Regions from separate parts of the Homo sapiens genome. Here region 2 is linked to region 1. The links come from fine-mapping of genetic effects on gene expression. A gene starts in region 1. The other region holds a variant in brackets. All regions are shown on one strand. Distances are from middle to middle. Region 1 holds the start of TMED1 (transmembrane p24 trafficking protein 1). Region 2 overlaps DNM2 (dynamin 2).

The links. PIP is the estimated chance that this variant, and not a neighbour inherited with it, causes the effect.
Region 2: its variant is fine-mapped to the expression of TMED1 in whole blood (GTEx, PIP 0.95).

Annotation. Positions count from the first base shown.
Region 1 is chr19:10,831,474-10,847,170 of GRCh38, reverse strand. It overlaps TMED1 (transmembrane p24 trafficking protein 1), which reads left to right and starts at 10,959. Exons shown (of 4, transcript NM_006858.4): 1 at 10,959-11,162; 2 at 11,818-11,915; 3 at 12,054-12,237; 4 at 13,958-15,104. The coding sequence starts at 10,980. The coding sequence ends at 14,176. It overlaps DNM2 (dynamin 2), which reads right to left. Exons shown (of 21, transcript NM_001005361.3): 21 at 15,268-15,697. It also overlaps a transcript of C19orf38 not described here and the pseudogene HIKESHIP2. RefSeq lists enhancers at 10,685-10,784, 10,550-11,186, 11,824-12,461.
Region 2 is chr19:10,737,134-10,752,830 of GRCh38, reverse strand. All of the region lies in intron 1 of DNM2 (dynamin 2), which reads right to left. Among named protein-coding and RNA genes, the nearest start is that of MIR638, 27 kb to the right of the region's middle. RefSeq lists enhancers at 1,659-2,280, 3,416-4,230 and a silencer at 13,821-13,890. The variant C/T (reference allele first, on the strand shown) is at 8,971.

The DNA of each region.
Region 1 (15,697 bases):
GCCCAGAAACTTCCAAGTTTCTCTTACTACTGGGTTTGCATTTATCTTTTTAAACATTTCTGTTCAAGCCAGTCAGGTTTGCTTGGGGGTTTGGACCCAAGAAGGATGTGGCATGTGGTCATCAAACACCAAAATGCGTCATTAGAGTAAACTTTTTTCTTTGGACACAGAAAGTTCAATCCAACCTCAGGGCCTTTGCACACACTATTTCCCTGGCCTGGAACACAATTCTGTCAACCTGGTCAAATCCTGCTTCTCCTTCAGGTCTCAGTTTAAATAGCACTTCTGGGAAAACTTTCCAGGCCCCTCTGGACTTAGAACAATCCCCTAGCTAAATTCTCCCACAGTGCCCTGTAATATTCCTTTATTGCAATTGGCATGCTTGTATCTTCAAGGAATTTGCTCATTTCATCAGAGTTGTCAAATGTATTGGTGTAAAGTTATTTATATCCCCTTACTATCCTTTTAATGTCTGTAGGGTCTGTAGTGATGTTCCTTCTTTCATTCCTGACACATAAATTAGTGAAGTCTCCTTGTCTCTTATCGGTCTTCCTAGGAGCTAATCATTGTTATTGATCTTTTCAAAGTGCCACAGTTTGGATTTGTTGTTTTATTTTCTATTTTATTGCCTTTTGACTTGACTTTATTCTTTTCTTTTTTCTGGTTACCTTATGTTCAATTGGCTCTTCTTTTCCTAGCTCATGTTTTGTTTTTAAATTTAAACTTCACCAGCAGAAATTTGTATTAATAGCTTCTTAAGATGGATGCTTATATAAACTCTTTTTATTAAAAAAAAATTTTTTTTAATTAGCCAGATGTGGTAGTGGGTGCCTGTAGTCCCAGCTACTCGGGAGGCTGAGGCTGGAGAATGGCGTGAACCCGGGAAGGAGAGCTTGCAGTGAGCTGAGATCATGCCACTGCACTCCAGCCTGGGCAACAGAGCGAGACTCTGTCTCAAAAAAAAAACAACAAAAAAACATTTTTTTTTTGAGACAGGGTCTTGCTCTATTGCTCAGGCTACAGTGAAGCAGCATGATCATGACTCACTGCAGCCTCACCCTGCTGGGCTCAAGAGATCATCCCATCTCAGCCTCCTGAGTAGCTGGGACTACAGGTGTCCACCACCACACCTGGCTAATTAAAAAAAAAAAAATTGTAGAGACAGGGTCCTATTATGTTACCCAGCCTGATCTTGAACTCCTGGGCTCAAGCAATCCTCCTGACTCAGCCTCCCAAAGTGCTGGGATTACAGGCAGCTCATTAACTTTAAACCCTCTTTTTTTTTTTTTTTTTTGACGGAGTCTTGCTCTGTCGCCCAGGCTGGAGTGCAATGGCGTGATCTCGGCTCACTGCAAGCTCTGCCTCCCAGGTTCACGCCATTCTCCTGCCTCAGACTCCTGAGTAGCTGGGACTACAGGCACCCACCACCATGCATGGCTAATTTTTTGTATTTTTAGTGGAGATGGGGTTTCACCATGTTAGCCAGGATGGTCTCGATCTCCTGACCTCATGATCCACCTGCCTCGGCCTCCCAAAGTGCTGGGATTACAGGCGTGAGCCACCGCACCCGGCCCACCTTTATCTTCTAATACAAGCATTTAAAGGTACACCTTTCCCTCCAAGAACTGTTTTAACTGCATGCCACACATTTTCATATATTGAGCGTCATTAAGTTAGAAATATTTGCTTATTTCCATTGTGCTTTCTTTTCTATGATCCAGAGAATATGTGTGTTGCTTAATGCCCAAGTACTTGGGCTTTTTGGGGGGCAGCTTACTGTTAATGATTTTTAACTCCTTTGTGGTCATATAATTTCAATACTTTGAAATGTACTGACTTTTTAGAATGGTGCAGGGTATCTCGATCCACATTGTACGTACGCTAGAAATTCAAGTACACGGTGTAGTTGTTTGGTATAATATTCTCTAAATATTAATACAATTTGGTCAAGGTAGTACACAGAATATTCTTGAATTTATTGAATTCATCCTCATGCCTTTTTTTTTTTTTGGAGACAAGGTCTTGCTTTCTTGCCCAGGCTGCTGGAGTGCAGTGGTATAATCATGGCTCACTGCAGTCTCCATCTCTCAGGCTCAAGTGATCCTCCCACCTCAGCCTTCCAAGTAGCTGGGACCACAGGCATGCACGGCACCTGGCTAAATTTTTTTTTTTTTTTTGTAGAGAAAGGGTCTCACTACATTGCCTAGCTGGTCTCAAACTCCTGGGCTCAAGTAATCCTCCCACCTTGGGCTCCCAAAGTGCTGGGATTACAGGCGTAAGCCACCACCACGCCCAGCCTCCTTCATTTTTTTTTTTTTTTTTTGAGATGGAATCTCGCTCTGTCGCCCAGGCTGGAGTGCAGTGGCGCAATCTCGGCTCACTGCAAGCTCCACCTCCTGGGTTCACGCCATTCTCCTGCCTCAGTCTCCCGAGTAGCTGGGACTACAGGCAACCGCCACCACGCCCGGCTAATTTTTTGTATTTTTTAGTAGAGACGGGATTTCACTGTGTTAGCCAGGATGGTCTTGATCACCTGACCTTGTGATCTGCCCGCCTCAGCCTCCCAAAGTGCTGGGATTACAGGCGTGAGCCACTGCACCCGGCCTTTCTTTTTTTTTTTTAAACAGAGACAGGGTCTTGCTATGTTGCTCAGGCTGGTCATGAACTCCTGAGCTCAAGCAATCCTCCCACCTTGGCCTCCCAAAGTGCTGGGGTTACAGGCGTGAGCCACCACGCCTAGCTTTTTAAATTTTTTTTTTTTTTTTTTTGAGACGGAGTCTCACTCTGTTACCCAGGCTGGAGTGAAGTGGTGCGATCTCATCTCACTGCAAACTCCACCTCCTGGGTTCAAGCGATTCTCCTGCCTCAGCTTCCTGAGTAGCGGGGATTACACGTGTGCCACCATGCCTGGCTAATTTTTGTATTTTTAGTAGAGACAGGGTTTCACCATGTTGGTCAGGCTGGTCTTGAACTCCTGACCTCGTAATCTACCCACCTCAGCCTCCCAAAGTGCTGGGATTACAGGCGTGAGCCACCGTGTCCAGCCTTTTTTTTTTTTAGACATGGTCTCACTTTGTCGCCCCGGCTGGAGTGCAGTGGCGCAATCTCGGCTGCACTGCAACCTCCATCTTCCGGGTTTAAGTGATTCTCCTGCCTCAGCCTCCTGAGTAGCTGGGATTACAGGCATGCACCACTACGGCTGGCTAATTTTTGGATTTTTAGTAGAGACAGGATTTCACCATGTTGGCCAATCTGGTTTTGAACTCCTGACCTCGAATGATCCGCCCACCTCCCGAAGTGTTGGAATTATAGGCATGAGCCGCCATGCCCAGCCTTCATGATATCTTAACACAGCTTTCCTCCTCCTCTCGGAGCACAAGGATGGGGTCTGTGTTGTTACCTGCAGTGTCCCGTGTCTCCCACCATGCTTGGCACATCATAAATATTTCTCAATCATCTGACCTGACAGCGAAAAAAAACATCCATTCAAGCCACTTCTGTGGCTGTATACTGGGTGTACAGGAGATGGAGTTAAGAGAGATTCCTGGCTTATTTTTTCCACCAACTGAGTACTGAGCATCATCATGTTCCCAGAATTGTGCCAGAGACATTAGGATGAATGAAAATGGCTCCTGTCCTCAAGGAGCTCAGCGTTCAAGAGTCAGACAAGAAGACAAGGAGAGTCCAGTGGTGAAGTGCAGTAACAGAGGCAGTGGCCGAGGGGGCTCAACCCAGCTACAGCAGGGTCAGGGAAGCCTTCTGATTGATATTGATAGTGGCAAGAGGCAGACAAATGCCTAGGCAGATAGGGGCAGGTCCCTGGTGAAACCCCACCTCCAAGCCAAAGACAGTTTAAAGCCTGAAAGCAAAGCTACAAGTCAAATCCAGGGACTGGACAGAGAATCTGTCTTCTATTTGGCGTGCTTTCCTCAGATTGATCCCCACCCTCCACCTAGTTTGCATATACCTACCCTTTCCTAATTGGTTTTCTATACTGTTGGACCCACCTTTGAGTGGTGTCTTCGCTTTAACCTTTTTTGCACACTCACAATCCAATCAGCACACATTCCCCATTCTGAGTCCATAAAAAGCCCCGGATCCAGCCACACTGAAAGATAAACCACACCCCCACATCTCCTCTTTGCTGAGAGCTGTTCTGTCGCTCAAAAAAATTCTCCTCCCATCTTCACCCTTCAATTGTCAGCATTTCCTCATTCTTCTTGGATGCAGGACAAGAGCTTGAGAACTGCCGAATGCAGATACAAGCTATAACACAGGTGGGCTGAGTGGGCAGGGTGCCTCCAGTGTCATGCCCTTGCGGGTGGTAGGGGGCACTGCCGGCCATAGATGTCCCCGGCTGGCAAAGTGGCTAAGAAAAATCCTGAGTCAATATGGTGAAGGAATCTACAACCTGGAATTCTGGTTTTTTTTTTTGAGACAGGGTCTCTCTCTGTTGCACAGGTTGGAGTGCAGTAGTGCAATCATGGCTCACTGCAGCCTCAACCTCCTGGGCTCAAGCGATCCTCCTGAGTCAGGTTCCTGTGTTGCTGGGACTACAGGCGTGTGCCACCATGCCCAGCTACTTTTTTTTTTTCCATTAAAAATTATTTTAGCCAGGCGCAGTGGCTCACGCCTGTAATCCCAGCACTTTGGGAGGCCAAGGCCGACGGATCACGAGGTCAGGAGAACAAGACCATCCTGACTAACACGGTGAAAACCCATCTCTACTAAAAATACAAAAAATTAGCCAGGCATGGTGGCGGGCACCTGTAGTCCCAGCTACTCGGGAGGCTGAGGCAGGAGAATGGTGTGAACCCGGGAGGCGGAGCTTGCAGTGAGCCAAGGTCGCGCCACTGCACTCCAGCCTGGGTGACAGAGTGAGACTCCGTCTCAAAAAAAAAAAAAAGTATTTTATTCAAATTATGTTTTCCAAGAGATGGTTCTGTGGTAGTCATCACTGAAAGTTTTCATACCATTTCAGAACCACATTTGCCGGAATGAACATTTCAGATGGGCTTGGTGTCATCTGGGCCTGAGTGAATGAGTCAACTGAGGATACAGCAGCATTACCTACGGGAGTCTGCTGAGCCATACTGTCCAATAATTCCACTGAAATTCCAATCTGAGCAACAGATGGAGTTCGGACAATATTCATGGCTCCAAAAGGATGTTGGCTTCCTTCTCCAGATTTAAGACCTGAAATTTTGAAGATGGCACTTGGCTTCCCATTCGTGACAAATCCTAGGAGTTGCCACACTGGCATTCCATTTGAATCAGGATAAGAAAAGTAGACAGATCCTCCCATTCCCTCAGGAAATGGGATTGTTCCCATGCCCAGCTAATTTTTTAAAAAATGTTTTTGTGGAGATGGGATCTCACTATGCTGCCCAGGCTAGTCGGGAACTCCTGGGCTCAAGAGATCCTCCCAACTTGGCCGCCCAAAATGCTGGGATTACAGGCGTGAGCCACTCCACCTGGCTTTGACAGTGTCTGTTTTATTCACTGTCAGAGGCTCAGTAAATATTTGGTGAATAATTAGGGAGGAGAGTTTTTGGTTTTGTTTACTCAAGGGACATGGTCTCGATCTCCTGACCTTGTGATCTACCCACCTCGGCCTCCCAAAGTGCTGGGATTACAGGCGTGAGCCACTGTGCCCGGCCGCGAGAGGGTATTTTTTTGTGTGTGTTTATGAGACAGGGTCTCACTGTCACCCAGGCTGGAGTGTAGTGGGCCAATCATGGCTCACTGCAGCCTTGAACTCCTGGGCTCAAGCGAGCCTCCCACCTCTGCCTCCTGAGTAGCTAGGACTATAGGTGCATGCCACCACAACTGGCTAATATTTTATTATTTTGTAAAGATGGTGGTAGGAGCGGGAGAGTCTCTCTACGTTGCCAAGGCTGGTCTCAAACTCCTTGGCTCAAGAGATCCTCTGGCTTCAGCCTTCCAAAGTGCTGGGATTACAAGCATGAGGGTCCAGCTAGAGAAGTTTTTTTGTTTCACTTTTCTATCTTTTCCTCTCTATAATATGTGTTTAAAAAACCTCCTACAACAAAAAGATGAACAACCCAATTTTTAAATGGGCAAAAGACATGAATGGATACCTTTCCAAAGAAGATATACACACCACCGAGAAGCAGATAAGAAGATGCTCAACCTTACTAATCATTTGGGAAATGCACATACACTAGGTTGGCTATAATAAACAAACAAACAAACAAACAAAAAATACAAAACAGGGCCGGTCACAGTGGCCCACGCCTGTAATCCCAGCACTTTAGGAGGCCGAGGTGGGCAGATCACTTGAGGTCAGGAGTTCGAGACCAGCTTGGTCAACATGGCAAAAACCTGTCTCTAGGCTGGGCGCGGTGGCTTACGCCTGTAATCCCAGAACTTTGGGAGGCTGAGGCAGGCAGATCACGAGGTCAAGAGATTGAGACCATCCTGGCCAACATGGTGAAACCACGTCTCTACTAAAAATACAAAAATTAGCTGGGCATGGTGGCATGCGCCCATAGTCCCACCTACTCAGGAGGCTGAGGCAGAAGAATCACTTGAACCTGGGAGGCAGAGGTTGAAGTGAGCCAAGATGGTACCACTGTACTCCAGCCTGGCAATACAGCAAGACTCCGTCTCAAAACAAAACAAAACAAAAACAAAAACAAAAACAAAAATCTGTCTTTATTATAATTACAAAAATTAGCTGGGTGTGTTGGCATGTGCCTGTAATCCCAGCTACTTGGGAGGCTGAGGCAGGAGAATTACTTGAACTTGGGAGATGGAGATTGCAGTTACTGCACTCCAGCCAAAGTGAAGGAGTGAGACTGTCTCAAAAACAAAACAAAACAAAAAACAAAATGCAAAGTAACAAGTGTTGGTGAGGATGTAGAGAAACTGGAACCCTCATACGTGGTTGGTGGGAATGGAAAACAGTACAGCCACTGTGGAAAACACTTTGGTTGTTCCTCAAAAAGTTAAACATAGAAATACCATAGGATCCAGCAATTCCACCACGAGATCTATACCCCAAAGAACTGAACGCAAGTAATAAAATACACATACATACATGTTAACAGCAGCTGTACTCACAATAGCTAAAAGGTTGAAATAACTCTACTGTCCCTCAATAATGAATGGCTAAAGAAATTGTGGGGCCAGGCACAGTGACTCACAACTGTAATCTCAGCGCTTTGGGCACTGAGGCAGGAGAATCACTTAAGCCCAGGAGTTAAAGACCAGTCTGGGTAACACAGGGAGACCTCTTGTCTCCACAGAAAAATAATTAGCCAGGTGTGGTGGCGTGCACCTGTAGTCCCAGCTACTTGGGAGGCTGAGGTGGATCACATGAGTTCGGGAAGTGGAGGGTGCGGTGAGCTGTGATCACACCACTGCACTCCAGCTTGAGTAACACAGCGAGACTGTCTCAAAAAAAAAAAAAAAAAGAACAAAAGAAAAATTGATTGTGGTATGTACATACAATAGAATACTACTCAGCCATAAAAAGGAATTAAATATTGATACATGGTCTAACCCTAGAAACATGCTAAGTAAAAGAAGTTCAATACAAATGGTGACACATTGTCTGCTTCTATTCATATGAAATATCCAGAGTAGGTAAATCCCTAGAGGCAAAAAGCACATAGCTAGTTGAGAGGCGGGGGGCAAAGTGTAATGAGGAGTTGATACAGGAGATAGAAAGTATTTAGGCAGGCAGTGAGGGCAAAGAGTCCTCAGCAGAATTTCTTTTCTAACAGAAAGTAGCCCCTGATATCATTTCTTTTCTAATAAATAGCAGCCTGAAAACTCAAGCTGCAAACATAGATAAGGAAGCTGGAAGCTTGCACGTGGGAATGCTGGCAGCTGCACCAACAGAAAATGGCTACCTGGGAGCCAGGCATATCCAACACGGAGGCTCCATCTCCCCTTTTTTGCTACCACGTGTACAGGAACTAAGAAATGGGCAACATGGGGCTGGTCAAGGTGGCTCACACCAGTAATCCCAGCACTTTGGGAGGCCAAGGTGGGCGGATCATGAGGTCAGGAGTTCAAGATCAGCCTGGACAACATGGTGAAATCCTGTCTCTACTAAAAATACAAAAAATTAGTTGGGCGTGGTGGCAGGCACCTGTAATCCCAGCTACTGAGGCGGGAGAATCCCTTGAACCTGGGAGGCGGAGGTTGCGGAGAGCCTAGGTCACGCCACTGCACTCCAGCCTGGGTGACAGGGCAAGACTCTGTCTCAAAAAAAAAAAAGAAAAAAAAAGAAAAAGAAATGGGCGATGTGGCACAGCTCAGGTAGAGACCCCGGCTGCATAATAAAAGATTAGCAGATACCAGAAATTCACACCCTATGCAAATGGCACACCTGTTCTAACCAGTTTTTCATCCCCTATGTAAATCAGGCTAAGTCTCCTCACCAGCTCATCTATAAACCCCCCTGTATTTTGCTATGGACCAGCAACCCATTTTTCTGGGACTCCTCTCTGTAGCAGAGAGCTATACTCTCCGTTGCCTATTAAACGTTCGTTCTCAACCTCATTCTTTTGTGTGTCCTGGTCCTTGTTCTTCGTGGCTGTGAGACAACGACCCCGGGTGTTACTCAAGACAACGAGGCCGTTTCAGAATCACTGCTTAATGGGTACAGGGATCTTTACTGAGCCGATGAAAATGTTTTGGAACTACATAGAAGTCACTGCACAACACTGGAATGTACTAAATGCCACTGAATTGTTAATTTTAAAATGGTTATTTTTATTTTCTTTTTGACACGGAGTCCTGCTCTGTCGCCCAGGCTGGAGTGCAGTGGCATCATCTGGGCTCACTGCAAGCTCCGCTTCCCAGGTTCACACCATTCTCCTGCCTCAGCCTCCAGAGTAGCTGGGACTACAGGCACCCGCCACCACGCCTGGCTAATTTTTTGTATTTTTGGTAGAGACGGGGTTTCACTGTGTTAGCCAGGATAGTCTCGATCTCCTGACCTCATGATCCGCCTGCCTTGGCCTCCAAAAGTGTTGGGATTACAGGTGTAAGCCACCACACCCGGCCTTAAAATTGTTAATTTTATGCAATGTGAATTTTACTGTATTTAAAAAAATCAATTTTAGTAATCCCAACACTTTGGGAGGGTGAGGGAGCAGGCAGATGGCTTGAGCCCAGGAGTTTGAAACCAGCCTGGGCAACACAGGGAAACCTCATGTCTACAAAAAATTAGTTAGGCATGGAGGTGTACACCTGTAGTCCCAGCTACTCAGGAGGCTGAGGTGGGAGAATCACTTGAGCCCAGGAGGTAGAGATTGCAGTGAGCCATGATGGCGTCACTGCACCCCAGCCTGGGCAACAGAGCAAGACCCTGTCCTAAAAAAAATCCGGCCGGGTGCAGTGGCTCACGCCTACAATCCCAGCACTTTGGGAGGCCGAGGTGGATGGAACAGAAGGTCAGGATATCGAGACCATCCTGGCTAACATGGTGAAACCCCCTCTCTACTAAAAATACAAAAAATTAGCCAGGTGTGGTGGCACGTGCCTGTAGTCTCAGCTACTCGGAAGGCTGAGGCAGGAGGATCGCTGGAACCCCAGGAGACGGAGGTTGCAGTGAGTCGAGATCGCGCCACTGCACTCTAGCCTGGGCAACAGAGGGAGACTCTGTCTCAAAAAAAAAAAAAAAAAAAAAGGAAAAAAAAATTAAAAAAAAAAAGAAAAAAAAGAAAAGGAGTCACCCGTTCTCCACTGTTACTTCAAATTGTCCAAGCAGTGAGTGTAAATGATAGAAAAAGTTGGAGTGAAAAGGAATACCAAACTGATATTACAAAGAGCTACTTCCCCAAATTCTCCAAATGCAGGAAAGTGCTGACAACAGCCAGCTGTATTTGAGGGATCTTTGTCATCACCTGCCAACCTTTTCCGGGTTTATCTTTGAAGACTAAACATCTCCCTGTACACAGTTTATGTTTAGACGGGAACCAAATAACAGATTATTATTTACTGAGGGCCTGTGATGTCCCACGCACTGCGGAAGCAAGCACTCAACAAGCATTTCACGTATCCTAAAGACAGCCCAGTAGCGTAGGCCTATTATCCCCATTTTGCAGAAGAGGAAACTGAGGCTCAACAGAGGGAATGCCTCAAGTAATGGGTGGGGCAGGAGCTGAACCAGGCAACGTGGCTCCCAGTCCCACACTGTCCTTATCTCTTCCTACCTGGGCTGTCGTTTTTCTGACCCGAGGCTACTGTAATGGCTCTATTTACCTGCTGGCCCTTGAGTCTGAGACCCTTGGGGTGCATGGTGGGGCCACGCCCCTCCACTGTCTATAAGCCAGGAAAGCTGAGCACTCAATATGAACCAAGCCTCATCTCAATTCTCACAGCCGCACTACAGGGTGGTCGTTCCATCACTCCCGACTTACGAGGAAACTGATACGCTGATGCCTCTAAGGCGCAAAAGGCGTCGAACCTGGACCACGCTCACAGAGCAAGCAAAACACGACGCCACAGGTATCTCCGCCCCGCCCCAGCCCTTTTATAGGCGAGCCCTACGGGTCGCGTACAGGGCCACGCCTAGACGCTATTTTTGGGTCCACTCCACCACGTCGGTCCCGCCAAAGGTTGTCACGCGCGGCGCACTCTGGGAAAACCACGTGGAGGTGACTAAAAAGGACCCTGCCGCCTGTAACTTTAGTTGTCTTAGCTACTGCCTACAAAAGATGCGCCATCATGGCACTTATTTTTGTAATTTTCCTCCACCAGCGGCCGAGAAGAGAGCCGAAGCCTTTGAGAAAAATATTCCCAGACGGTTGAGTGTTTCTGGGCACATCAGGCATTCATTCGGGCCGCCTGCCCTCTAGTGGGGGGGTCCTTCACTCCTGGCACCTCTGGTTACGGACAACATACAGAAGCCACTGCCAATGAGCTCCGCCGAGTAGCACCGGGGCAGGGCTAGCGCTTAAAGGAGCCGCGACCCCTTTGCAGACCAGAGGGTGACCCGGATGATGGCGGCCGGCGCGGCCCTAGCCCTGGCCTTGTGGCTACTAATGCCACCAGTGGAGGTGGGAGGGGCGGGGCCCCCGCCAATCCAGGACGGTGAGTTCACGTTCCTGTTGCCGGCGGGGAGGAAGCAGTGTTTCTACCAGTCCGCGCCGGCCAACGCAAGCCTCGAGACCGAATACCAGGTAGAGGGTCGCGGGCTGGGCGGCCAGCAGAGTCAGGGAGAGGGGGCGTGGCCAAGCGGTCGAGGCGAGGCGCGCTTTAGGAGGAAGGGGGAGGAATCCGTGCTTGGGAGCGCGGGGGCGGAGCTAGAAAGAGATGGACAGATGGGGCGGGGACGGTGTGTGGGAGCGGAAGGGGAGGGAGTAATGAAGCAGGCGGGGCTAGAGTAAGAGATCCAGAGGGGGCGGGGCCATCGATAAGTATAGGGAGCCTCTGAGAGGACAGGACTCTGGCTGGTGGGCGTGGCGATAGTGCTGATAGGTCAACTGCGGGGGCGTTGCCCACACAGGCCTTTCTCGGGGGTTAGACTAAGGAAAAAGGCTGGGCCTATCCTCTTTCGGAGGCGGAGCCAACCAGGGGCGTGGTCAGGTAAACGTCCATTAAGTACTTTTGGTAGGTGCGTGGTCAGCTGAAAGTATGGACCCCAAGCTGTCATATCAATGAGGGTGGAGGCAAGGGGCGCAGCCACTGGGACAGGTTGGGGCGGGTGTGGGTGTGCCGCCGTTCAGGTAAGCCCTTGGTGGTCTGTATTGATCAGTGTTGGTTCAGCCGTAGCCCTCTTCGGCAGGCGCCCTTGGCCTACCGCTAGCCCTCCACCCGCTCTTACCTGCCCCCCAGGTGATCGGAGGTGCTGGACTGGACGTGGACTTCACGCTGGAGAGCCCTCAGGGCGTGCTGTTGGTCAGCGAGTCCCGCAAGGCTGATGGGGTACACACGTGAGTTCAGTCTTGATGCCTGCCTGGGTTCAGTTACAGCCCTGCCCTTCCCAGGCGGCCTCAGGTTACCGCCCTGACTGCCCCGCTGAGTCGGCTGGCTGGCCACCCTGGGTCATGTCTGTGTGTCTGTCTGCCCAGGGTGGAGCCAACGGAGGCCGGGGACTACAAGCTGTGCTTTGACAACTCCTTCAGCACCATCTCCGAGAAGCTGGTGTTCTTTGAACTGATCTTTGACAGCCTCCAGGATGACGAGGAGGTCGAAGGATGGGCAGAGGCTGTGGAGCCCGAGGAGATGCTGGATGTTAAAATGGAGGACATCAAGGTGTGTCCAGGCTGCGCTGGGGCCACTCCTTCCAGATCTCTAGGATTCACCTGGGGTGCCCCCCTTGGGCTGACCCAGCCTCCCCTCCGTAGTTGTGCCCTCCAACTGAATTATAGTAAGAGTAGCAGCTCTTAAAATAAGTAGTTCATTTCAGGCCGGGCACGGTGGCTCACGCCTGTAATCCCAGCACTTTGGGAGGCTGAGGCGGGTGGATCACCTGAGGTCAGGAGTTTTGAGACCAGCCTGGCCAACATGGTGAAACCCCGTCTCTACTAAAAATACAAAAATTAGCCGGGTGTGGTGGCGGGCGTCTGTAATCCCAGCTACTCAGGAGGCTGAGGCCAGAGAATGACTTGAACCCAGGAGGTGGAAGTTGAACCTGGGAGGCAGAGGTTGCAGTGAGCCGAGATCGCACCATTGCACTCCAGCCTGGGCAATAAGAGCAAAACTCCGTCTCAAAAAAAAAAAAAAAAAAAAAAGTAGTTCATTTCTAGGTATAAACCCTGGTGTAAAGGTTTAAGGAACTCATATCATAAATAACTCATACCGTAAATCTCCAAACCACCTTGTGAAGCAGACCCTGTGCTCAAGTCATCCCCATTTTACAGGTGGAGAAAGTGAGATACAAGATGGCTGAGCAACTCACGGCCACACAGACCAACTAGCAGAGTTGGTATTGAACCCATGCTGGTTTCAGCAACTATGCTCTTAACCACAAGCAAATATGTTCTGTACATTTATTAGTATTTTAATTAACTACTTATTTATTTATTTTCTAACAGATCTCTCTTGGTCACCCAGGCTGGATTGCAGTGGCACGATCTCAGCTCACTGCAACCTCTGCCTCCCAGGTTCAGCCAATTCTCCTGCCTCAGCCTCCTGAATAGCTGTGCCACCACGCCTGACTGACTAATTTTTGTATTTTTAGTAGAGACAGGGTTTCACCATGTTGGCCAGGCTGGTCTCGAACTCCTGACCTCAGGGGATCTGTCTGCCTTGGCTTCCCAAAGCTCTGGGATTACAGGTGTGAGCTACGGCGAGGCAAGGTCTTGCTGTGTCACTCAGGCTGGAGTGCAGTGGTGTGATCATAGCCCATTGCAGCCTCAAACTCCTGGGCTCAAGCAATCCTGCCACCTCAGTGGGACTACGGGTGTGCACCACCATGCCTAATTTTTTGTTTTCTGTAGAGACGAGGTTTCACCATGTTGGCTAGGGTGGTCTTGAACTCCTGGGTTTAAGTGATCCTCCTGTGTTTGGATTACAGGTGTAATCTTGCTTCAGCCTCCTGAGTAGCTGGGATTGCAGTTGCACATCACCACCCCTGGCTAATTTTTTGTAGAGATGGGGTTTTGCCATGTAGCCCAGGCTGGTCTCAAACTCCTGGGCTCAAGCGATCCTCCCACCTCAGCCTTCCAAAGTGCTAGGATTATAGGCATGAGCCACCATGCTCATCCTTGTACATTTATTTAGGCATTAAATGTTCACAGCAATTTGGAAGCTTATAGAAGAGGAAACAGGCTCAGATAGGTTAATTAAGTTGCTCATGGTCACAGCCAGTGAGTGGCAGGGTGAGGATTTGAACTTAGCCTGAACAAGTCTGTGTTTGCAGCTGTACCTCCCAGGGTTAATACAGCCTCCCTCCGTATCCCCCGGTTTTTTTGGTCTCTGCTCCCTGATGGGTGGAGGGAGGCCTGACCCTTCCCCTCCCGCTGCCCTGTAGGAGTCCATTGAGACCATGCGGACCCGGCTGGAGCGCAGCATCCAGATGCTCACGCTACTGCGGGCCTTCGAGGCACGTGACCGCAACCTGCAAGAGGGCAACTTGGAGCGGGTCAACTTCTGGTCAGCTGTCAACGTGGCGGTGCTGCTGCTGGTGGCTGTGCTGCAGGTCTGCACGCTCAAGCGCTTCTTCCAGGACAAGCGCCCGGTGCCCACGTAGCCCCTGCCATGGAAGGAAGAACGGGACAAAGGAGGGGCAGCAGGGTGTGTGCATATGAGACTTGGGGGTCCCTCCCCAATTTTAGTTTCCTGCCAAAACGGGAGTGTGCAGTCAGGGCCTGCGGTCTGGCCCCATGAGTCTCCTTCCGTCCTCAGCGGGCAGGGAACACCTCTGGCTTGTAGAAGGGACGGCTCAGTGGCTGCACCGACGGTCCTGGAAATCTCACATGGTGGGCACTGCAGCGTTGGAACGTGAGCCTCGGATTTCCTGGCCCCTCTACTGTAAATGTGCCTTAGCCTAAGCCTCCCATCCTGTGTTAGCGTTGCCTGGTGCGGGGCAGGGCCTAACAAGGAAACCTGGGCCCTCCAAGCCAGGTTGAGGTCTGGTAACAGAATGCCAGGAAGGGGGCCTGGAAGACCACCTGCCCCGGCCCCTCTCCTGCAGGGGCCCCACACAGGCATGAGGGATGGCCCGGCCAAAGTCTAGGCAGAAGCCTCCTATAACAAAGGGTGGTGTGGCCTGGGCATTGGAGTCAATAAATTATGGTCAGAAAATCACAAGAGCCTGCTGATTGGGGCTCAGGGACACCAGCCAGGACAGACCGGCCCCCGAGGGGGCAGCCAGACAGGTGGGAGGGGCCTCCCACGAAGCTCAGAAGAAAGGTCGTGCGGGAGCCGATGGAGGTGGTCGCCTGGCACAAGAGAAAAATCAGAAAGCAAAGTTTAACTGAGCCCCAGTTGGGCCACGAGGCTTGGGCTTCCCCACGAGGTGAGAGAAGCAGGGCCTGAGGGTAGGAAGGGGGTGGAGCGCTGGGGTCCCCGCTTCACCAGGCAGCAGCCAGGCCTGTGCACGTGGGGGTGTGCAGGGGGTCAGAGAATATCTGCTCCCACTCCTCACATGCTAAGGAAAGTAAAAGCTCTCCCCTGTATCGAGTGGCTTCCTCTGAAAGGTGACACCCCCGAAAGCAGAGCCCTCAGGGAGATGGGAGGCACTTATGAGTGCAGGGACTTGGGCATCCTTATGGGAGGCCTGATGGAGGTGGCACCCATGTCCCCAGCCTGAACACTAACACAAGAGGCCCACACAGCAGCCACCAGCAGCGTCTTCCCTTTATTTTAGTTTATTAATAGAATACAGAGTGCAGGCACTTACAGTGGTCAAACTGAGCGAGGAGTGGGTGAGGTCTCCTCAGAGAGAGGCCGCCCTGGGCCCACCCATCAGGGAGGCATGGGCGGGAGCTGAGAGGCCCCCAAGACCCCCCGCCACCACCACCCACATAGCCCAAGCCCAGCCACCCTGGGGGACCCAGGAGGAGGAGGAGGAGAGGAATAGGGCAAGGCCGGCCCGGGCCAACGGCTCCGGGCCTAGCAAAGGCACCTCTGGCAGCCGAGGCTGGGCCAGGCTCAGGCTGTGTGGTTAATATGGCCGGGAAGGACTATGTACACCTCAGGCCTGCCAGCTGGGCACTACCGAGCCCACTGGGCCAGGCTTGCCGCTGGGGAGCTCCTGCTAATGGGAAGT
Region 2 (15,697 bases), 94 kb after region 1:
TCACTATGGTGTCCAGGCTGGTCTTGAACTCCCTGCAATGACCCCACTGCACCTGCCTATTAACCCATTTAACCATGACAGGATCCATTAAAATGGGTCTGCTGGCTCCATTTTACAGATGCAAATGAGGCCCAGAGGGTGGGGGCCTGCCCAGGGTCACACAGCATCTGGGGGTGGCATGAACATGGACTGAAGGCACAGGGCCTGAGCTGTCTAACCACCAGGGCACCTGGCCTTCTGAGCAAACACATCTTAGGCAGACCCTCCAGTAACTCCCAGCCAGGGCCCGGCTTTGGACCTCTGGTGTTTGCCTGTGGCCTGTGCTGTCCTGTGACTCCACTTTGTGTCTGAGGCGCCAGGCACTGTGAGGACAATGGTGATGCCCCAGACGCCACCAGCGCCCAGCTCAGACAACGGACAATCACAGCTTCAGAACATAGGGCGGGAGTGACGCCCAAGAGAACACAGAGCTGTGGGCACAGGCAGGAGAAGGTGACTTTCTGGGCCTGGGGTATTTGTAGTGTGGAATATGATGAGGTTTCTCTTCAAACAGGCTGATCAATCTTTTAATTCATAGTACCCCACACACACATACACACTCTTTTTTCCTTTTTCCTTTCTGGCTTTGTTAGATGCCCAGGCACGCCACAGTACCAGGCGTTACCAGTACCAGCTCACATTCCTTCCCTTATTTACAAAGAAGACTAACTTTCTAGTTCACTACAGACATCCCTTCCCCTTTCCTCTCTCTTTTACGTGCCCACCTTATCTACAAAAATTCAAATGTTTAGCCAACCAAAATTGGTTTAGATTGTATGACCCGACCCCGGCCAATGGGGAGAGGGTACAGGAGCAGGACTTGCATCAGGAATAAAGGCTCTCGTGTCCCTTTGTTCAGGTGTGCTCTCATGGCGACTGGCCAAGGACAAGCACCCCTCTGTACAGAAGTAAAATTGCTTTGCTAAAAATCCTTTGTTCGAGTGTTTAATTTCCTTAAAATTTTGAGTGTTATTCCGAACAGTTCTAAGTCGGGCACAGGAGGGCACAGCCTGGGCGACGGAGACGCAGCTCTCAGGGGAGAGTTTGAGGACAGGGCAGGGCAGGCGCAGAGGGCCTCGCATGCCAGGCTGAGAGCGCCAGGAGCCCTGGGACTTATCCGATTTTGCTTCTAAAAGTTCCCAGACTGCTGCATGCAAAGGGCACCAACATTCACCCTCGGCCTGGACTGCCTCCGAAATGAGCCCCCCAGAAGTCTCCTAGGAGCTTGGTGAGCAGGGGCCTGGCCCTAAGGGTTTTCTGGGACACAGCAGCAGGAGTACTTGGAGCCTTCCAGAAACCACCTCCCAAGCAGCTCTGCCTGGAACACTGACACTGGCCACTTAGCAGGAAGTGACTTTCCAGCCTCCGTCATCTACTTCCTCCTCGTTGATCCCATCCGCATTCTGAGAGTACTGAAATCTACCTACTCCTCTCCTCTCCCTTTGCTGCTGCTACAGTGCCCTCTGTGCACCCAGGCTGCCCTGCATTCCAGTCCCTGCTTGGCCACCTCTGTGCTGTGTGATCCTGGGCGGGCTTCCTGGCCTCTCTGGTCTAGGTTTCCCGTCAGTAAGACAGGGTAACCTTGCCAAGCTCAGAGTGATTCCGCTCGAATGACATTTCCTCAGAGACTTCTCTCACCCCCATTCACACCTCTCCCACCTCCACCCCCCATGCCTCATTTTTCTCTGTGGAACTAACACATGCTAAATGTCACTTAGCTGCATTTTGTTCTGGCTCACATACAGACCCCATACCCCCATCTGAGCTGTGTGGGGAGCTCACACACAGCTCCCCAAGGTGGGATCCTCCAACATTCCATCCCCAAAGCATAGAGTAGGGCTGGCACACAGGAGATGCACAATTAAGTAGTTTATTAACTTTTTTTTTTTTTGAGATGGAGTCTTGCTTTGTCACCCAGGCTGGAGTGTAGTGGCGCAATCTCAGCTTACTCCTGCCTCAGCCCCCCAAGTAGCTGGGATTACAGGCGCCCAGCACCACACCCGGCTAATTTCTTTGTATTTTTAGTAGAGATGGGGTTTTGCCATTTTGGCCAGGCTGGTCTCGAACTCCTGGCCTCAGGTGATCCACCTGCCTCAGCAGCCCAAAGTGCTGGGATTACAGGCATGAGCCACCGCGCCCGGCCTTATTTATTTTAGAGGCAGGATCTCACTCTGTGCCCAGGCTGCATCAGCAGCACAATCACAGCTTACTGCAGCCTCAAACTCCAGGGTACAGGCAAACCTCAGTCTCGGCCTCCTGAGTAGCTATGACTACAGGTATATGTCACCATGCTTGGCTAATTTTTTTTTTTTAGAGATGGCATCTTCCTATATTGCCCAGTCTGGAGTGCAGTGGCACAATCATACCTCACTGCAGCCTTGAACTCCCGGACCCTAGTGAACTTCCCACCTCAGCCTCCCAAGTAACTGGGACTGCAGGCACACACCACCATGCCCGGCTAATTTTTTTATTTTTTGCAGAGACAGGGTCTCGCTATGTTGCCCAGGCTGGTCTCAAACTTCTGGCCTCATGCAATCTTCCCGCATCGGCCTCCCAAAGCACCGGGATTACAGGTGTGAGCCACTGCACCTAGCCTAGTACTATTGCATCATTTCAGTACCTGGCCTCCTATCCATGGGCCCAGGCCAGGCCCCAGGGTCCTGGCCCAACCTCCCACCTTCCCCAGTGACCTTTCTAAAATGAAGATCCTGCCTCCAAGCTTCTCTCTTGCAGAAACCAAGTGACTGGTCCTAGCCCGTCCTGTCCAGTCCTAGTCCCAGTGCTGACCGGGTTCCCCAGCCCCACCCCCTGCACCTGCCTCCTCTGAGTTCTCTCTGGCACTGCTGGCCTTCAGGCCTTTGCAGGGGGTGTTCCCTCTGCCAGGAAACCCTCCCATAGGCCCTGCCTACCTGGCCATGGGCAGGTGTGATGGCTTGCGCCCCTCCCTCCCAAATACACACCCCTTCCCACTCCCAGCAAAACGGCCTCTGATGAAGGTCTAGTCCTGTGACACGCCAAGACTTCTGCACCTGGCCTGGTCACTGCTAGATCCTCAGCACCTAGAACAGTGCCTGCCAGACAGTGTGTGCTCATTAAGTATTTGTTGAATGGGTAAGAAGAATCCAGACTGTGGAGCCAGGCAGCCTGGGTTCAAAGTCGAGCTCCGCCCCTCCTGGGCTGTGTGGCCCTGGACAGGTCTCTACCCCTCTCTGGGCACTGACTTGGCCATCCATGAAATGGGAGGACACTTCCAGTCTGCCACAGAGGGCCCAGCCACCGGCTTGGCCTGGCTCAAGTCACTTCACCCCACCAGAGCAGGTTTCAGAGCTCTAAAGTGGGCCACCTCTCCCTGGAAGGGGATAAGCGCTCCAGGAAGGCGGTAGGGGACAGGCAGGGAAGGGTGCAGCTGGGAGGCAGCACCCAGCAGCGATGGGAGAGGTGCCAGGTTGAGTCCAGCAGATCAGAAGCCCAGGCTGTTTATTTACCGTTTTTTGAACAGACCACAAGGCTCCACCAGGCGCCTTTTGACTTCCAGCCCCTATGAGGGTGGGGACGGCTACGTGCAGGAACGATGCAGGCTCAAACCCAGAGCCTTCCCATGGGAGGGAGAATCAACAGATAAGCCCACAGAGGGTGAGTCAGCAGTGTGGCCCAGAGCCAGCACCCCAGGGCAAGCCACCCCTCACCTGTGCAGCCTGGTGCTGGCAGGGCCTGGCCAGGACCCTGGGCTGGGATCCCTTCCTTGTCACCATATGCTCAGCACAGTCTCTTTGAGCCTGAATGTGGCTGGGAGGGCTCACGTGACACCACAGCCAGCCTTCAGCATGGCACTGGCCACAGGAAGAGGCTTCGGCAGGAGCCCACACTCCAGGGCCAATTTCCACCCTGGCCTCTTCTCTCAGGACTCTGATAAGAGCCACACAAGGAACGCTGGCCACCCAACAGGCTGTCTCTAACCCCATCTCGGGCAACATAGCGGCAAATCCTCTGACAACCCCAGAGGGGTTGAAAGTCACAAGGATGCCAGGGCCAAAAGTCCCATTTCAGACAGGTGGACTGAGGTTCAGTCTCAGGACTTGCCCAGGACGCTCAGCGAGGGAGGAGCAGAGCCAGGACACGAATGTGGGTGGGACACCAATGAGGCAGACCCGCAGTCACCCGCACCCACCTCAGGGGCTTCTCTGTCGCTCTGTTGGAGCAGAAGTGGGGACCCATGCCCAGTCTCCTCTGCCCACCTCGGTCCCTGCCTCATCCTTCCAACAATAGCCATTGGTCACCCAGCAAGGACGCCCAAGCCTTACAGTGCTCGGCCCACACAGTGTCCGCAGGTAGGTGCCACTGCATCCCTGTGGTCACCCCAAAGGGCAGGGAGGGGAGAAACCCCTCACGAGGCTGCAGACCTGGGGCTCCCCTGGCCCTCACCCACCCGCCTTGTCCAGCCGCGAGTCCTGCTGGTTTCACCTCCACATCAGGCCTGATTCTGCTCAATTCCCTCCACGTCCAAGGCTGTCAGCGTGTCCCACTGTCACCTGCCTACACCAGTGCAGTCGTGCCCTTGGTCCCCACAATCTGCCTCCCACAAAGCAGCCACAAGGTGCCTGTGCACACCATGTCACTGTAAACCCCTTTGTTATGGGCCCTCCTTGGGCTCCCGCTTCACTTGGAATAAAAGCCAGACTTTTCCCTGCAGCCCCCCAAGCCCTGCACGACCTGTCCTGTCACCTTCCTGTCCTCACCTCCCCCTACTCTCTGTCTTGCTGGCTTTACTCCAGCCACATATGCCTCCTCCATGTTCCCGAAACACACCAGACACTGTCCTGCCCCAGGGCCTTTGCCCAGGCTGTTCCCTCAGCCTGGAACCTTCTTCCTGCAGCATTAACAGAGCAGGCGGGCAGCTCCCAGCAAACTGCACCCTCCCTCCCCCCGCCATAGGAAGCTGCTCCCCTTCTTTCACACATCAACCCGCTCAATGCTCAGTGCCACTCACAACTGGCATCTTCCGGGTTCCTGATGTGTTCACCCAGCTGCAGTCTGTCCCTGCCCCCACCTCAACATCCTATTAGAGTGGCAGCCTCATGGGCGCAGGGTCCCGTATCGGCCCCTTCTCTGCTCTCTCCCCAGTACCCAACACACACCCAGGCAGGAGGCAGATGACCAATGCTTGCAGAACAATGGGCCAAATCTGCCATTTTACAGATGAGGAGACTTCTCACTTCCACAATCCACTCCTGGCCTCACTCCTCCCCAACATTCCCAGCCCAGCAGCCCCTCCCTGATCAGGAATCCTGCAGCTCCCGGCTCGAGGCCCGCCCTTGGCACTCAAGCCGTGGCATCACCTGCTCCCTGGTCTCATCCAAGGGACACAACAGGCTGGGAGCAAAAGCAGGAGGTGACCTGTGGCAATTCGTGATCGTGGCTCTGGGACTCTCCAGGCCCTGGCTGGAATCCAGTATTTCCTTTCTGGACAAGATGGGCAGGTCAGGTAACCTCTTTGTGCCTCAGTTTCCCAATCTGTTATGTGGGAATGATGCCACCTGCCTCAGAGAGGAGGTGGAAGGGTTTGTGAAACTCTTACCATGATACCCAAAAGAGAACATTCGCCCCATCGAATCAAAGTAAAACTCAGGCTGAGCACAGTGGTTCGTGCCTATAATCCCAGCACCTTGGCACGCAATCTCTTGAGCCCAGGAGTTTGAAACCAGCCTGGGCAACATGATGAGACCCTGTCTCTACTACTAAAAAAAAAAAAAAAATTGGTTGAGTGCGGTGGCTCATGCCTGTAATCTCAGCACTTTGCGGGGCCGAGGCGGGCAGATCACCCGAGGTCAGGAGTTTGAGACCAGCTTGGCCAACATGGAGAAACTCCGTCTCTACTAAAAATACAAAAATTAGCCAGGCGTGGTGGTGGGCACCTGTAATCCCAGCTACTCGAGAGGCTGAGGCAGGAAAACCGCTTGAACCCAGGAGGCAGAGGTCACAGTGAGCTGAGATTGTGAGATCATGCCATTGCACTCCAGCCTGGGCAACAGAGTGAGACTGTCTCAAAAAAAAAAAAAACAAAAAACAAAAAAAAAGCCGGCACGGTTGCTCACACCTGTAATCCCGGCACTTTGGGAGACCGAGGCAGGTAGATCACCTGAGGTTGGGAGTTCGAGACCAGCCTGACCAACAGGGAGAAACCCCGTCTCTACTAAAAATACAAAATTAGCCAGGTGTGGTGCATGCCTGTAATCTCAGCTACTCGGGAGGCTGAGGTGGGAGAATCGCTTGAACCTGGGAGGCAGAGGTTACAGTCAGCCAAGATCACACCATTACACTCCTGCCTGGGCAATAAGAGTGAAACTCCATCTCAAAAAAACAAAAAGGAAAACTCGATACAATGTAAGAACATGACCCTCCTCTGCTCATAACATTTGACGGTTTGACAGTTCCCAAGTGCCCCCCATGGCCCTGTCACCTCCGTGCCCTCCTCCCCCACCACCCCCTCACTCCCTGCCTCCAGCCACATTGGTGGTCAAGAAACAGCAAAAAGGCCGGGCGTGGTAGCTCACACCTGTAATGCCAGCACTTTGGAAGGCCGAGGTGGGTGGATCACCTGAGGTCCAGAGTTCGAGAGCAGCCTGGCCAACATGGTGAAACCTTGTCTCTACTAAAAATACAGAAAAATTAGTGGGGTGTGGTGGCGTGTGCCTGTACTCCTAGCTGCTCAGGAGGCTGAGGCACGAGAATCGCTTGAACCTGGGAGGCAGAGGTTGCAGTGAGCCAAGATCATGCCACTGCACTCCAGCATAGGTCAGAGTGAGACTCCGTCTCAAAAAATGAAATAAAAAGAAACAGCAAGGAGGCCAGACATTGCTGTCGCAGGGCCTTTGCACATGCTGGCCTCCTGCTTCGAAAGACCATCTCATCTCCTCCAAGTATTTCCACAATCCTGGCTATCTCCGGTTACCAGGGACTCAACTCAGATGTCACCTCCTCAGAGAGGTCTGTCCCCTACTGATGCCCACCTCCCCTTCATGTTGCCCTGTTTTCCTTCTAAACACAGCACTGCCCACTAGTTGGTACTTTTCTGGTTTATTTGCACCTCTTTTTTCAGAGACAGGATCTCACTCTGTCATCCAGGCTGGAGTGCAGTGATGCAATCATAGCTGACTGCAGCCTCAAACTCCTGGGCTGAAGCGATCCTCCTCCCTCAGCCTCCTGAGTAGCTCGGACTACAGGCACTTGCCACCACGCCCAGCTAACTTTTTTTATTTGTGTTTTTCTGTAGTGATATGCTGCCTAGGCGATCCTCCCACCTCAGCCTCCCAAAGCCCTGGGATTTCAAGCGTGCCCAGCCTAATTGCTCATTTATCTAACAGTCCCAACTAGAATATCAACACCTTGAGGGCAGGGGTCTTAAGCGCCCTTTCCCCAGCACCCAGAAACATATTAATGCAGTGGTTTGGCAAGGACAGCCGACTCCCTGAGGGCAGTACTTTGTGGAATGAAAACCGATAATGACCTAAATGTCCACTGGCAGGGAACTGGCTAAATCAATCTTGGGAGCTAGTCCGGGGAGCAATGCAGGCTGCAGTGCCGAAGGTCAAGTGCGATGCACGGACTGGATTATGCGTGGGGGATGATGTCCTCCACTTCGGGTTTTTTTTCCGCACATCCCCATTTCCTGTGTATGGACAGCAGGCTTGAGGTCATGTGAGGTGTGCAAATGAAAAACTTGCTGTTTTATAGTCTCCAACGTGATTTGAATGTCAGGCTTTTATAACTTTTTTATAACTGTGATTGCAGGCCAGTGTTGACCTTGTAACTTTCAGCAGTACTGAGAAACCCCAAAGAAACTGGCCGGCCCAGCAGCATTTTCAAGAGTGACGGGGAAACTGCTCAAATGTGGGGTCCTGGAGCTCACAACTCCGCCCTCCTAGGGGTGTCCTCGGTGTCATCCTAACTGCTCCCCACTGCAAGGGGTGGCCTGAGTACCCCAGCCAGCCTGGTGAGTGCCAGCTGTGGGACCTTGTTAGCAAAGTCTCTCCCATCTTGCAACAGGTGTCCTGCTCTGTAAAACGGTTGTGGTGAGGACTGGAGGAGACAGTTCCAGTTGCCAGGGCAAAGTGAACGCTCACTGTGTCTGCAGCCCTTACAGGGTGGTCAGCCATGTATGGATTTCCAGCTCTGTACCACCCTGAGGGCCCAAGTGAACTAGAGGCAGGCAGCCGGGCACCACCCACAGTCTGCATTCCACAGCCAGCCTCCTGGAGCCCCTTCCTTCCAGGGGAGTAGGTAGTGACCTCCAGGCAAACACGTTCTAGTTCCCTCCACCCCGAGACTCTCCCGGGGTGATGGGGAGCCAGCCCATAAGGAAATATCCAGGCAGACTCAGTCCACAATGTCACAAGTGACAGGAACAGCCCGGACCCGTTCTTGAGGTCTTTGTCCCACCCCCACAGCGTATCTCTCGGCAGATCCTGCCTTGGATATCCAGACCCATCCCCTCCTCCTCTGTTTCGCTCTAATGTCCTGAGGCCAAGTCTCCCATCTCAGGGCAAAGCCTCCCCCAGGCTCCCTGCCCCACAGGCTTGGAAAACTGCAAGTCAGATCACACTGTGTGCCTGATTTTTAAAGAATTTTTTTTTTTTTTAGATGGAGTCTGGCTCTGTCACCCCAGCCGAAGTGTAGTGGCAGGATCTTGGCTCATTGCAACCTCCGCCTCCTGGGCTCAAGTGATTTTCCTGCCTCAGCCTCCTAAGCAGCTGGGACTACGGGCGTATGCTACCACGTCTGGCTAATTTTTGTATTTTTTTTTTTTTTCTGGAAACAGTCTCGCTCTGCTGCCCTGGCTGGAGTGCAATGGCGTGATCTTGGCTCACTGCAACCTTGCCTCCCGAGTTCAAGCAATTCTGCTGCCTCAGCCTCCCAAGTAGCTGGGACTACAGG[C/T]GCACGCCACCACACACGGCTAATTTTTTTTTTTTTTTTTTTTTTTTTTTTGAGACAGAGTCTCGCTTTGTCACCCAGGCTGGAGTGCAGTGGCGCAATCTCGGCTCACTGCAAGCTCCGCCTCCCGGGTTCATGCCATCCTCCTGCCTCAGCCTCCTGAGTAGCTGGGACTACAAGCACCCGCCACCACACCCGGCTAATTTTTTGTATTTTTAGTAGAGACGGAGTTTTACCATATTAGCCAGGATGGTCTCGATCTCCTGACCTTGTGATCCACCTGCCTCCGCCTCCCAAAGTGCTGGGATTACAGGTGTGAGCCACCACACCCAGCCACACCTGGCTAATTTTTGTATTTTTAGTAGAGACGGGGTTTTGCAAGGCTGGTCTCGAACTCATGACCTCAGATGATCCGCCTGCCTCAGCCTCCCAAAGATCTGGGATTACAGGTGTGAGCCACCATGCCTGGCCGCATGATGTTTTTTCTCACCCGAGCACCTGTGCTTCCTTCCCACCCCTCAGGCCCCCAGCTAGAGCATCAGCTCCACAGGACAGGGATCTCGTCTGTCTTGTTCACTGCCCTGCCTCCAGCACACTATCTGGCACACAGCAGGTGTTCAGCAAATGCTAGCTGCACGGCAAAAGAAGCTGGCATCACGGCCGGGCGTGGTGGCTCACACCTGTAATCCTAGTATTTTGGGAGGCCATGGCAGGCGGAACACCTGAGCTCAGGAGTTCAAGACCAGCCTGGGCAACATGATGAAACCTCGCCTCTACAAAAAATTAGCCGGGCGTGGTGGCACACGCCTGTGGTCCCAGCTACTTGAGAGGCTGAGGTGGGAGGATCACTTGAGCCCAGGAGGTTGAGGCTGCAGTCAGCGGAGACTGAGCCACTGCACCACAACCTGCATGACAGAGGGAGACTCTGTCTCAAAAAAAAAAAAAAAAAAGAAAGAAAAACAAGCTAGCATCTCCAGGGCACTGCACAAAGCTCCAGGCACACAGGGCCTTCTTCCACCTTCACAGGGCTCTGGCCAACCCTGTTTTGCAGATGGGGAAACCAAGGATAGAGAGATTAAGTCATCCGGTCTATTGGCACACAGCTAAGAGCAGCCCTCCTGACCAATGAGGCACCAATCCAACCTGCGTCTAATCTCCATCTGCCAGGCACCATCCCGGTCACCACACAGCACTTCCAGGGGCACACAAGGAAAGGAAACCTTGGACTCCAGAGACAGGAAGGCCAGGCTCAGCTTCCTCATGGGGACAACTGAGCAAGATCATTGGGTGAAGACTCTGCAGCCTGGCAGCTCAGCCACAGCCTCACGGCAGGAACTGAATGAAGGCTGCCACTTCCCCAGCCCTCAGTTTCTCTATGAAATTGGGATAACAGCACCTACACTATGGGGTTGTCAGCAGGACAAACCCAGGGTCTAGCACGCATAAGGCCCTATTCCACAGGACTAGTTCACTAGTTCATGAGGGTGACGGGGGTGGGAGTGAAGGATGTCAATGCCTGGCACCACAACAGGCACAGACCCTTCTTCTTGGCACCCCAGCAAAGAGCCTTGGCACAGCCTTTCCTGGTGGGCCTGGCAACATCACTCTAAATCCACTTCTGATGCAACATGGCACTCCCTTGCAGGGTATCCACCCTGAGCATAGCAGACACACAAGCCTGCGGACCCCCAAGTCTCTGGCAGGAGGGGAAAAACTAGAAATAACCTAAAAATTCAAGGGGGAGAGTGATCAGTGTTAGTGGGAGTAGGCTCGACCCAGGAATACTTGCAGCTATAAAAAAGCACAGGACTCTCTCATGATGCTGCAATCAAGCAAAAACAAAGAAAGAAAAAAAGAAAGAAGGAAAAGAAAGAAGGGTAGAGGAAAAAGAAAAGAACAAGAACAAAAAGGAAGGAAGGAAGGAAAGAAGGGAGGGAGGGAAAGAGGAAGGTAAAGAGGAAGGTAAAGAGGAAGGGAGGGAGGAAGGAAAAAGCACAGAACAAAAGAAATATTGGCCAGGCGTGGTGGCTCACGCCTGTAATCCCAGCACTTTGGGAGGCAGAGGCGGGTGGATCACAAGGTCAGGAGATAGAGACCATCCTGGCTAACACGGTGAAACCCCGTCTCTACTAAAAATACAAAAAAAATTAGCCGGGCATGGTGGCGGACACCTGTACTCCCAGCTACTTGGGAGGCTGAGGCAGGAGAATGGCGTGAACCCGGGAGGCGGAGCTTGCAGTGAGCCAAGATCGCGCCACTGCACTCCAGCCTGGGCGACAGAGCAAGACTCTGTCTCAAAAAAAAAAAAAAAAGAAAGAAATATTGGCCAATTTGGGGCTGAGCACAGTGGCTCATGCCTGTAATCTCAGCACTTTGGGAGGCCAAGATGAGAGGATCACTTGAGCCCAAGAGTTCAAGGCCAGCCTGGTCAATATAGCAAGACCCTACCTCTAGAAAAAATACAAAAATTAGTCGGGTGTGGCACACGCCTGTGGTCCCAGCTACTCGGGAGGCAGAGGTGGGAGGATCATGTGAGCCCAGGAGACAGAAGCTACAGTGAGCTATGATCATGCCACCACGTTTCCAGCCTGGGAGACAGAGCAAGACCGTGTCTCCAAAAAGAAAAGAAAAAAGAAAGAAAGAAAGTTGGAGACTTCAATACCCCACTTTCAATCATGGATGGATATCAGCATTGGTATCAGGCAAGAAAAATAATAATAATGGATGGAACAACCAAATAAAAGATAACAAGGAAATAGAAAATACGAAACCAATAAGACCTGACAGATGTGTACAGAACACTCCACCCAAGAGTAAAATACACATTCTTATCATGTGCATATGGAACATTCTCCAGGACACACCGTATTCGAGGCCAAGCCATAAAACATGACTCAATAATTTTAAAGAGATTGAAATCATACAAAGTAGTTCCTCCAACCACAGTGAAATGAAGTTAGAAATGAACACAAGAAAGATGTTTTTCAGAAATTCTCAAATATATAGAAATGAACATACTGCTAAATAACCTATGTATCAAAGAAGAAATCATAAGAGAAATGAGAAGATATGCTGAGATAAATGAAAATGAAAACACAACATATCAAAACTTATGGATGCAGCTAAAGCAGGTTTACAGGGAAATTCATAGATGTAAGCAACTGTATTTAAAAAGAAGGAAGATTTTGGCCGGGCGCGGTGGCTTACGCCTGTAATCCCCACACTTTTAAGAGGCCGAGGTGGGTGGATCACCTGAGGTCAGGAGTTTGAGACCAGCCTCACCAACATGGTGAAACCCCGTCTCCACCAAAAATACAAAAATTAGCCAGGCATGGTGGTGGGTGCCTGTAGTCCCAGCTACTCAGGAGGCTGAGGCACGAGGATGGCGTGAACCTGGGAGGCGGAGCTTGCAGTGAGCCAAGATCGTGCCACTGCACTCCAGCCTGGGCGACAGAGCGAGACTCCGTCTCAAAAAAAAAAAACAAAAAAAAGAGAAAGATTTCAAATACTTTCAGATTTCAATAATCTTCCACTTCAAGAACCTCAGAAAAGGAGGGTAAACCAAATCCAAAGAGAAAAGAAGGAAATAATTAGAGAAGAAATAAAGAGACTAAAAAAATGGAGAGAGAAGTTAACACCACCACAATTTGCTCTTTGAATAGATCAACCAAACTGACAAACCTTTAGCTAGATTAACCAAGAGAAAAAGAGATAAGACTCAAATTACAAAAATCAGAAATAAAGAGGAGACATCACTACCAACCTTTCAGAAATAAAAAAGATGATAAGGGAATACTATTCTAACAAATTAAATACACCCTAGATGAAATGGACAAATTCCTAGAAAGACCCAAATTACTGAAACTGACTCAAGAAGACACAGAAAAACTCAATAGATGTACAAGAAATTTAATTAGTATTCAAAAAACGTCCCACAAAGAAAAGTCCAGGCCCAGGTGGCTTCATTGGTGAATTCTTTTTTTTTTTTTTTTTTTTTTTTTTGAGAGAGAGAGAGAGTCTTGCTCTGTTGCCCAGGCTAGAGTGCAGTGGAGTGATCTCGGCTCACTGCAACCTTGCCCCCCAGGTTCAAGAGATTCTCGTGCCTCAGCCACCCAGAGTAGCTGGAATTACAGGCATGTGCCACTACACCCAGCTAATTTTTGTATTTTTAGTAGAGAAGGGGTTTCACCATGTTGGGCAGGCTGGTCTCATCAATTCCTGCCCTCAAGTGATCTGCCCGCCTCAGCCTCCCAAATGCTGGGATTACAGGCGTGCGCCACTGCACCCAACCAGCATGGATGAATCTTGAAAACATGATGCTAAATAAACAAAGCCACACACAAAAGGCCATATACTGTAAGATTCCATTTATAGGAAATATCCAAAATTGGCAAATTCACAGACAGAAAGGACATTAGTGGCTTCCAGGTGCTGGGGGAGGGAGGAACTGCTTCATATGTATGGGTTTAGGGGAAATGAAAGTGCTACAAAATCAGATAGTGGTGCTGGTTACACAACTGTGAATATACTAAAATCCACTGAATAGTATATTTCAAAAGGATTAGGTATTATGGTATGTGAATTATATTTCAATAAAAATATTTCAGGAAAATAAAACAGTACAGGAGTTCCCCATGTCCCCATAGAAGAACAAGGGAACACGTCCTTCTTTTATTTATTTATTTATTTTTGAGACGGAGTCTCGCTCTGTCGCCCAGGCTGGAGTGCAGTGGCGTGATCTCGGCTCACTGCAAGCTCCTCCTCCAGGATTCAAGCCATTCTCCTGCCTCAGCCTCCTGAGTAGCTGGGACTACAGTACAGGCGCCCGCTACCACGCCCCGCTAATCTTTTGTATTTTTAGTAGAGACGGGGTTTCACCGTGTTAGCCAGGATGGTCTCAATCTCCTGACCTCGTGATCCGCCCACCTCGGCCTCCCAAAGTGCTGGGATTACAGGCGTGAGTCACTGAGCCCAGCCTTTTTTTTTTTTTTTTGCGATGGAGTTTTGCTCTTGTTGCCCAGGCTGGAGTGCAACGGTGCGATCTCAGCTCACAGCAACCTCTGCCTCCTGGGTTCAGGCACTTCTCCTGCCTTAGCCTCCCAAGTAGCTGGGATTACAGGCACCCACCACCACGCCCAGCTAACTAACTTTTTTTTGTATTTTTCATAGAGATGGGGTTTTGCCATGTTGGCCAGGATGGTCTTCAACTCCTGACCTCAAGTGATCCACCCGCCTCAACCTCCCAAAGTGCTGGGATCACAGGCGTGAGCCACCACACCAGGCCAGGTCCTTCTTAAAGAGTAACAACCGCTGGGATCCCCAGGAAGGGCCTGGCCTCCAACTGTGGCCAGTCCTCATCCCACCCTCCTGTAGCCCTCCCTCCCCTGTTTTTTTTGTTTTGTCTGTTTTTGTTGACATGAGGTCTCACTATATTGCCCAGGCTGGTATCAAACTCCTGGGCTCAAGCAATCCTCCCACCTCAGCCTCCCAAAGTGCTGGGTCTATGGGCGTGAGCCACCATGCCCTGCCACCTCGTGCCCTTTGATACTGATCTCAATGAAAGTCTCCACTTCCTTTTTATTTATTTATTTATTTATTTATTTTTTGAGATGGAGTCTCGCTCTTTCACCCAAGCTGGAGTACAGCGGCGTGATCTTGGCTCACTGCAACCTCCACCTCCCAGCCTCAGATGATCTGCCCACCTCGGCCTTCCAAAGTGCTGGGATTACAAGCATGAGCCACCACGTCCGGCCTACTTCCTTCTGTTGTGAGACTAATGCTTGTCTCCTCTGCCAGGCCTAACTCCTCTTGGTGGCAACCAGGCCTGTTTGACTCCAGAAGGGTGGCAGTTCAGGTCAGAGCCTGGCACAGAGCAGGCTCAGCAGACATTGCTGAGTGGGTCTTGCTCAGTGATTGACAAGTACATCAATGAGTGCATCCCGAGAGGGAGATGGGTGCCCCGATTACCTATCGCATGCCAGGCACCATGCAAGGGACTGCGCTACAGCCAGGGGCACCGCCCTACCATGGGGCATTCCCCTTCTAGTGGGGGGAGACAGAAAGAGAAATCAAACAAATAGGCCGGGTGCGGTGGCTCATGCCTGTAATCACAGCACTTTGGGAGGCCAAGGCTGGCAGATCACCTGAAGTCAGCAGTTCGAGATCAGCCTGGCCAACATAGTGAAACCTCGTCTCTACTAAAAATACAAAAATATACGGGCATGTTGACGTGCGCCTGTAATCCCAGCTACTTGGGAGGCTGAGGCAGGAGAATCGCTTGAACCCGGGAAGCAGAGGTTGCAGTGAGCCAAGATCGCCACTCCACTCCAGCCTGGGAGTCAGAGCAAGACTCCACCCCAAAAAAAGAAAACAAGAAACCAAACGCATAGGTGGAACAATGACAGGAATGACAAGTGGTTCCAAGAAAAATTAAGCAGGGGAAGGGGACAGAGAGAACAGGGTGGGGCGTTTGAGCAGAGTGGCCAGGGGGAGAGCCTTTTGAGAAGGAGGCTTTTAAGCAGAGGCCTTAGAATGCTGATGAAATGAGCCACAGGGTTATCTGGGGGAAGGGCAGTGCAGGCAGTGGAAGCAGCATGTGAAAAAGCCATGAGGTAGGACAGCGCCTCACCTGCATGAGAACATCATGGAGCCTCAGGGACGACTTCATTTTTACCCTGAGGGAACTGAGGGCCAGGGAGGATTCCAAGTAGAGGAAGGATATAGGGTCTCC